Regions from separate parts of the Homo sapiens genome. Here all the other regions are linked to region 2. Evidence: fine-mapped expression QTL. A gene starts in region 2. Each other region holds a variant in brackets. All regions are shown on one strand. Distances are from middle to middle. Region 1 overlaps PTGR1 (prostaglandin reductase 1). Region 2 holds the start of ZNF483 (zinc finger protein 483). Region 3 has its middle 15 kb from the start of PTGR1.

Region 1 (2,500 bases), 43 kb before region 2:
CTGATTGGTCCTCCTCAGACTCTTGCTAGCTTTTCTTTACTCCAAATTAATATTAGAGTGCCCCAGGTCATGGTCACTGGGACTTTGCTCTTCTCTATCTACGCTTGAGCTATCCCTTAGTTAGCTCGTCTGGGCTCAGTATGCTGGGAGTTCCCATCTCTATCTCCAGCCTGGCTCTCCTCTTAACTCTAGGCTAGTATGTCCACCTGGATGCCTGATACACATCTCTGACATAACATCTTGAAAACTAAATATATTTTGATCTTTCCTGCTCAACATGCTCCATATTCAGACTTTACTATCTCAGTTATAACAATTCTATACTTCTAGTTTCTCAATCCAAAAGCCTTGGTCATCTTTGATGTCTTTCTGTCGTACCCATGTCTAATCTCTAAGGAGATTCTGGTGGTTCTATCTTCAAAATATATACAGAATCTGAACACTTCTCCCACCTCCCTGCTACCACCCTGGTCCAGGCACCATGCCTTCTAGCCTGGATGCTTGTAGTGTATCGGGGGAACCTGCCCCCAATATTTCAACATAGGTTCTTTCTATTTTTCATAAGTGTTGGCTGGCTGAGAAATAAAGAGAAAGAGTACAAAGAGAGGAATTTTACAGCTGGGCTGCTGGGGGCGACACCACATATCAGTAGGACCGTGATACCCACCTGAGCCACAAAACCAGCAAGTTTTTATTAAGGATTTTAAAAGGGGAGGGGGTGTACGAACAGGGAGTAGGTCACAAAGATCACATGCTTCAAAGGGCAAAAGGCAGAACAAAGATCACATGCTTCTGAGGAAACAGGACAAGGGCAAAATCAGAATTACTGATAAGGGTCTATGTTCACTGTGCACATATTGTCTTGATAAACATCTTCAACAACAGAAAACAGGGTTCGAAAGCAGAGAACCAGTCTGACCACAAATTTACCAGGGCGGAGTTTTTCCCCCACCCTAATAAGCCTGAGGGTACTGCAGGAGATCAGGGCGTATTTCAGTGCTTATCTCAAATGC[A/G]TAAGACAGACACTCCCAGAGCAGCCATTTATAGACCTCCCCCAGGAATGCATTCCTTCCCCAGGATATTAATTATTAATATTCCTTGCTAGGAAAAGAATTTAGCAATATCTTCCCTACTTGCACATCCATTTATAGGCTCTCTGCAACAAGAAAAATATGGCTGTGTTTTTCCCAACCCCGCAGGCAGTTAGACCTTATGGTTGTCTTCCCTTGTTCCCTGAAAATCGCTGTTATTCTGTTCTTTTTCAAGATGCACTGATTTCATATTGTTCAAATACATGTTTTACAATCAATTTGTACAGTTAACACAATTATCACAGTGGTCCTGAGGTGACATACATCCTCAGCTTACAAAGATAACAGGATTAAGAGATTAAAGTAAGACAGGCGTAAGAAATTATAAAAGTATTAATTTGGGAACTGATAAATGTCCATATTAAAATGAAATCTTCACAATTTATGTTCCTCTGCCATGGCTCCAGCCAGTCCCTCCGTTTGGGGTCCCTGACTTCCCGCAACAGTAGTGGACTCTACCTGGCCTCCCATCTTTGCATCCCTATAGACAATTCCCAATGTGGTGGCCATAGCGATCTGTTAAGGCACAAATCAAATCCTGCCGTTCTTATGATCCAAACCATGCAAAGCTCTGCATTTCACTTAAAGTAAACCAAAGTGCTAATATTCAGTAAGCTTACACAAAATCTGACCCCTGATATCTCTCTGATTTCATTTCTTAGTATTCATCCTCTTATTTACTTGGCCCAGTCTCCTCCACCCCTCTGTAACTGCTTGCTGAATTCTCTCACGTCCTGCAAGCCTTTGCTAAAAAGTGCCGTCTGGACTGGCACGGTGGTTCACACTTGTAATCCCAGCACTTTGGGAGGCCAAGGCAGGTGGATCACAAGGTCAAGAGATCGAGACCATCTGACCAACATGGTGAAACCCTGTCTCTACTAAAAATACAAAAATTAGCTGGGCATGGTGGCGTGCACCTATAGTCCCAGCTACTTGGGAGGCTGAGGCAGGAGAATCGCTTGAACCTGGGAGGCGGAGGTTGCAGTGAGTCAAGATCGTGCCACTGCACTCCAGCACAGTGACAGAGTACAACTCCATCTCAAAAAAACAAAAAGTGCCTTCCAGGTGAGGCAAGTTTTTAAATGGCCCTATTTTAAGTTGCATTCCCTCTTCATTCTTGATCCTCCATATCCCACGCCCCCCGACTTTTTTTGTTTTTTTTTTTTGAGACAGGGTCTCAGACACCCAGGCTGGAGTGCAGTGCCGTGATCATGGCTCACCACAGCCTTGACCCAGGCTCAGGGGATTCTCCCACCTCAACCTCCTGAGTAGCTGGGACAACAGTCATGTGCCACCACACCTGGCTAGTTTTTTTGTGTTTTTCGTAGAGAAGGGCTTTCACCATGTTGCCCAGGCTCCTATCCTACTTTTATCCATAGCAATTAATCATCTTTTAACATAATATATAC
Region 2 (2,848 bases):
AAGTTCACATGCAGGGACCATGGCATTGTGATCTAGAGACACTGTCTGATGACCTCACCTCTTGAGCTCTAGCTACCCGATTGACACTACAGCCATAAATTAGTATCTCCTCTCTCTCTACATACTCTCCTAGCCTTTGCACCAAGGCTATTCCCTCTCCTCGGAATGTTGCTTTCTTTCTCCTACCAAACTTTTATTCGTCTTTAAAGCCTGACTCCTTTCAACTGTCACTTCTGGTGTGATGCTCTGCTTGATCCCAAAGCACTCCTTTGCACACAGACTGCCCTGTGTTGCATTCATTCATTCATTCTATAAGTGACGGAGCAACTACAATGAGCTGGAACGAGACCAGGGGCCATGAGCTGCGGGGCCAGGCGTGGACAGGCCTGAAAGGGTCCTCACGCTCACAGAGGGTCCAGGAAATGACAATACAGCCGGAGCGGGACTACAATGCGACAAGTGAAGGATGTGACAGCCTCGCATTGCAACTACCATACCAATAACAACCCACTTCCGAGTACAGCGCCCGGCACACAGCAGCATGACGTCATTTATTCCTCTGCCAAATATTAGGCGCCCACCACGTACCTGGCGCCGTGCTGAGCACCTGGGGCTCCGCGATGACTAAGACACTCGGCTCCGTCTACAGGGAGTTTACATAGGAGGCCCGGTGAAAATGTGACGCAGCCAGAGGATCTCAACCAGAGGGAAGAAAAAAGGAGAGATTTCACCCCCCAGCGGTCCTCTGGCAATGTCTGGACACATTTTTGGTTAGCTCGACTAGGACGAGAGGTGGTACTGTTATCTAACGGGCAGAACCAGTGACGCTGTTAAACATCCTGCCACAACGGGAGAGCCTCCCCCTCACCGCCACACCACAAACAAAACAAGGCATTATCCCGCCCAAAATGTCAACAGTGCCCAAGTGGCGCAGGGAGGGATGGAGGGAAGCCAACAGCCCCATCCCGCAGCGGAGTGCGCACCTCCCACAGAAGCAGCAGCAGCGCAGCGCACAGCCCGTTGGTAGGCTGCTCCCGGCCCCCATCCCGCCCCAAGTGCGCCCTCGGAGCCGGCGACCCGGCCACGGCCCCGAAACTCGGGGCCCGGGACGACCAGTACCTGCATCAGCATCCGCAAACAGCACCAACGCCACCGCAAAGAGCTTCCAGAAGCTTGTCCCGCAGCGAGTGCGCGCGCAAGCCTGCGGGAACCACTGCGCCTGCGCAGAGGCGCTGAACCGGACTCCCCGAACGCGCTCGTGCAGCTTTCCGAAAGTCCGCGCTTTCCATAGGCTCCCACCTGCCTGTTGCGCATGGTCACTGGGAAGCGGCTAGTGGGCTCGGCTGCAGAATTATTGCTGCGCCAGAGGCTCAGAGGCCTAGAATCGTATGAGGTTTGCAGATCCAGGAGGCTCCATCTGTTTAGTAACCTCAGACCTTCCCTACCCGCTCCCATCACTTCCATTCCCTGAAATCTAAGGTGGAAAAATCCACCGCAGAAGCATATTACCGATGCATTTAATGCAAGCCATAATTAATGCCACAACTTGAGTTAAACACATATTAATCTTATGACTTCCACACCTGCCCCCATGGTCCAGTCCACCCTCATGGCTCACCTGGATTATTGCAATAGCTTCTTGATTATACCTTACTTCTCTTGGCTATTCTCCACAGCCAGACGGACGTTTTAAAAACGTCAAATTATGACCCTCCTTTGCTTAAAACCCTGCAATGGTTTCCCATTTCACTCAGAGTTAAAACCCAAGTCTTTATAGTGGCCTACAAGGCCTGATGGAATCTAGCCCCTGTAACCTCCCGCACCTCTTCCCCACTTTCCTGCTCCAATCTTGATAGACCCCTTCCTCTTCTTGTAACCTGCCAGGTACTTCCGGCTGACCTGCTCCTTCCCTAAGTGGCCATACGGCCCGCTCTCTCATCCCTTCAGGTCTTCTCAATGAAGCTCTCCCACCATTCCACTTAAATAGGAATCCCACCTTACTCTTGTTTCCTCTTCTAACATGCCCTATAGGTTTGTTAATTTTTTTTTTTACTACTTGTCCGCCTTCTCCAGTAGAATACTAATTTCAGAAGAGTAAGTATTTTTATTTCATTTGTTCTAGGTTGTGTGTTTAGGTCCTGGAACAGGACTTGGCCCATGGCAGGCACTCAATAGATATTTGTTGAGCTTATGAATGAGTATTTGCATGGATTATTGGGGGCATTGCAAAAAGGGCCAAAGAACTCCAGAAAAATTGTTTGGAGGGTTCTAATAACTGGATGATCCCTGAAGGGGTGGAGTTAGGAGAGAAAGACTAGATTCATTCTAGACTGAAGGAGCAAGGTGATTCAAGGCCCTGAGACTTCAAAAGGGCAGAGCAAGCTCAACTAAATGAACCACTCCTCTCAAAAGGAGTGGGCTTATCACAGGCAGCAAGTCAAGCTGAAGAGACAGGGCTGAGAATGGCCGGGCGCGGTGGCTCATGCTTGTAATCCCAGCACTTTGGGAGGCTGAGGCGGGTGGATCACCTGAGGTCGGGAGTTTGAGACCAGCCTGACCCACGCGGAGAAACCCTGTCTCTACTAAAAATACAAAAAATTAGCCAGGTGTGGTGGCACATGCCTATAATCCCAGCTACTCGGGAGGCTGAGGCAGGAGAATCACTTGAATCCGGGAGGTGGAGGTTGTGAAGAGCTGAGATCAGGCCATTGCGCTTTAGCCTGAGTAACGAGTGAAACTCCGTCTCAAAAAAAAAAAAAGAGAAAAAAAAGAAACAGGGCTGAGAATGAAGACAAAAGTTTTCTCAGTCCCGAGTCCCATGGCATATTCTCCTTTACCCACCTCCCCT
Region 3 (2,848 bases), 90 kb before region 2:
TACATCAGCTGTCCTCCTGAGATGAGAACGACCCACAAGGAAGTGTTAATCTGCAGCTGTGCTTCAGGGACAAATGGTCAAAGAACCAATTACCTCCTCATTTGCAATTGGCTATATTCTTTTTCTTTTGCCCTGCCTTGAATATATTTCTTGAATATAGACCAGTTAGAAGAGCTGCCAAGCTTTAACATATTTAATCCTAACTTCTGTGCATACACCATACAACATTAGAAATTCTGGTGGAAAATTTCCAGGACGAAATTTCTCTTAATGACTTCACTATTGCTAGAGGTTTTACTGATGTACAGAAGAGTTAACATAGCAAGCCTGATTGCGATGTTGGCCTTGGGCTGGTGTCTGGGAACTTGGATTTGAAGCGTGTCCCCACCATTCCCTAACTGACAAGGGTGGCCCATTCTGCCTAGACTATACAAACAGTGTGGTTTATGCTGAACACCTGCCTTCCTTTGGGGGGTCTGGAATTTTGGTACACGCTAGGCAGAGGGTGCCTTATGTGACTAGACCCTAGTAAAACTTTGGATGTTGAGACTCTAATGGGTTTCCCTCTAATAAGCAGAAACATTGAATGCTTACTGCTGGGGAAATATATTTTCATTGCTGAAGGAAGAGTGCACTGTGCAATTCCTCGTGGAGGGAGGGGGCAGTAGGATGCCTGCCCATGGATTTCCCCAGGCTCCACCTGAGTCTTTCTCCCTCCTCATTACATTGCCGTAATAAACCTTAGCCATGAATACAACTATAGTCTGGGTCCCGTGAGCCCTTCCAGTGACTCTCCAAACATAAGGTATCCTTGGGCACCCTCCACATGAGTAATTAGATTGACGAATCCCAATGTCTCCGATAGGGTCGAAGTCACTGGTGCCATCTCCCATCTATGTAACAAAGCTACTCAGTATGTCACAGAGAGTTTAATGAAGCCACTTGTTTAAGTTCTTACTTTTTTCTTTGTTGGTGTCCCCCTGAGCTGGAACTTGGGCATGAGCCCAAGAGTCTGGGCTGAAGTAAGATACAAGTAACCAACACTGAGCTGAGCACTCACTTTTCCCCTTGATCTTGAACCACTTACTGTCTTTGTGCATCTTAACTCTCTTCCATACAAAGCATTCCTTTCCTACAAAATTTCTCTGCCTCTCATATAAATATTTAAAAATTATTGGCCGGGTGCGGTGTCTCATGCCTGTAATCCCAGCACTTTGGGAGGCCGAGGCAGGTGGATCATGAGGTCGGGAGATCGAGACCATCCTGGCTAATACGGTGAAACCCCGTCTCTACCAAAAATACAAAAAAATTAGCCGGGCAAGGTGGTGGGCACCTGTAGTCCCAGCTACTCGAGAGGCTGAGGCAGGAGAATGGCATGAATCCGGTAGGTGGAGCTTGTGGTGAGCCAAGATCGCGCCACTGTACTCCAGCCTGGGCAGCAGAGTAAGACTCCATCTCAAAAAACAAAAAACAAAAAAACACAATTATTATTGTTAGGCTGGGTG[T/C]AGTGGCTCACACCTGTAATCCCAGCCCTTTGGAAGGCAGAGGCAGGTGGATCACTTTGAGCTCAGGAGTTCAAGACCAGCCTGGGCAACATGGCAAGACCACATCTCTACTAAAAATACAAAAATTAGCTGAGCTTGGTGGTGCGCACCTGTGGTCCCAGCTACTCAGGAGGCTGAGGCTGGAGAATTATTTGAACCTGGGAGGCAGAGGTTGCAGTGAGCTGAGATCATGCCACTGTACACCAGCCTAGGCGACAGAGTGAGGCCCTGTCTCAAAAAAAAAAATATATATATATATATATACATATATATAAAATTATTATTATTTTGGAGACAGAGTCTTACTCTGTCACCTGGGCTGAGGTACAGTGGTGTGATCATAGCTTTCTGCAGCCTCCAACTCCTGGGTTCAAGCAATCCTTCTGCTTCAGCCTCCTGAGTATCTATGACTACAGGCATGCACCACCATGCCCCACTCATTTTTTTTTTAAGTTTAGTAGAGATGGGGTCTCATTATATTGCCCAGGCTTGTTTTCAGATTCTTTTGAATGAAAAAATTAGGACACCACTGAGAGTTGCTAAAAAGTTCCTCCTAAGCGCCACCAGATGGATGCATCTGGTTATAAATCCAGGTAAGTAATCCAAATCAGCAGGTCCTACTCACCCTTACCCTTCCCACATAATTCACAAACCAAGGTAATAAGACCTCAAATAAGGAATGACGCCTGTTTCACAGTTCAGCATGACCAACAGCTGATATCTAAACAATGCCCCCAAGCTGGCAAGTAAAACCCAAACATAACCCAAAGCCATCTGTGGGTGGCTCCTCTGCCCTTCCGAGGTCTGATTAAATTGGAACAAATCCAAGTTCTATGTTCCATGATAGTCCAAAGTTCTCCCACAATGCCTGTGAGCTCCCTGGGCTTGCCTCCTCCTGCGTCCTGCTAGCTATTTTTAAATGTGAGCTCTATTTTGTTCCAAGATCATTAGGATATTTAGCCCCTTCACCAATTTCCACAAGAAAATTAATTCATTCCAATATTCAGAGGTTCCTTTTTTATTTCTTAGCCAGTGATTAAGGAATCCATTATGTAACCCAGAGCCATTCTCTCTACTCTTTTCTTAATTTTTCCTTCTAAAATGGGGAGTTCCATTTTCTTAATTTTTCATTCTAAATTGGGGAGTTCCAAATTTTTTTTCTCTCTCTCTCTTAGGCAAAGCAGTTCATGTCCTTCCTGGAAGTTTTAGTATCTGCCAGTACTGATGCCCAGTTTGCATTTTAAAAGCTCCTTCTAGCTGCTAGATGCTGAAAAGACTGAAAGGAGGCAAGGGGATAGGCAAAG

Evidence for each region. PIP is the estimated chance that this variant, and not a neighbour inherited with it, causes the effect.
Region 1: its variant is fine-mapped to the expression of ZNF483 in fibroblasts (GTEx, PIP above 0.99). The same link has a PIP of 0.9 or more in monocytes.
Region 3: its variant is fine-mapped to the expression of ZNF483 in skeletal muscle (GTEx, PIP 0.92).

Annotation. Positions count from the first base shown.
Region 1 is chr9:111,566,839-111,569,338 of GRCh38, reverse strand. The region is part of intron 9 of PTGR1 (prostaglandin reductase 1); the gene reads left to right. It also overlaps a transcript of ZNF483 not described here. Among named protein-coding and RNA genes, the nearest start is that of PTGR1, 32 kb to the left of the region's middle. The variant A/G (reference allele first, on the strand shown) is at 1,014.
Region 2 is chr9:111,523,534-111,526,381 of GRCh38, reverse strand. It overlaps ZNF483 (zinc finger protein 483), which reads right to left and starts at 1,203. Exons shown (of 6, transcript NM_133464.5): 1 at 1,120-1,203. RefSeq lists enhancers at 40-539, 651-850 and a silencer at 951-1,300.
Region 3 is chr9:111,613,131-111,615,978 of GRCh38, reverse strand. It overlaps the pseudogene LRRC37A5P. Among named protein-coding and RNA genes, the nearest start is that of PTGR1, 15 kb to the right of the region's middle. The variant T/C (reference allele first, on the strand shown) is at 1,506.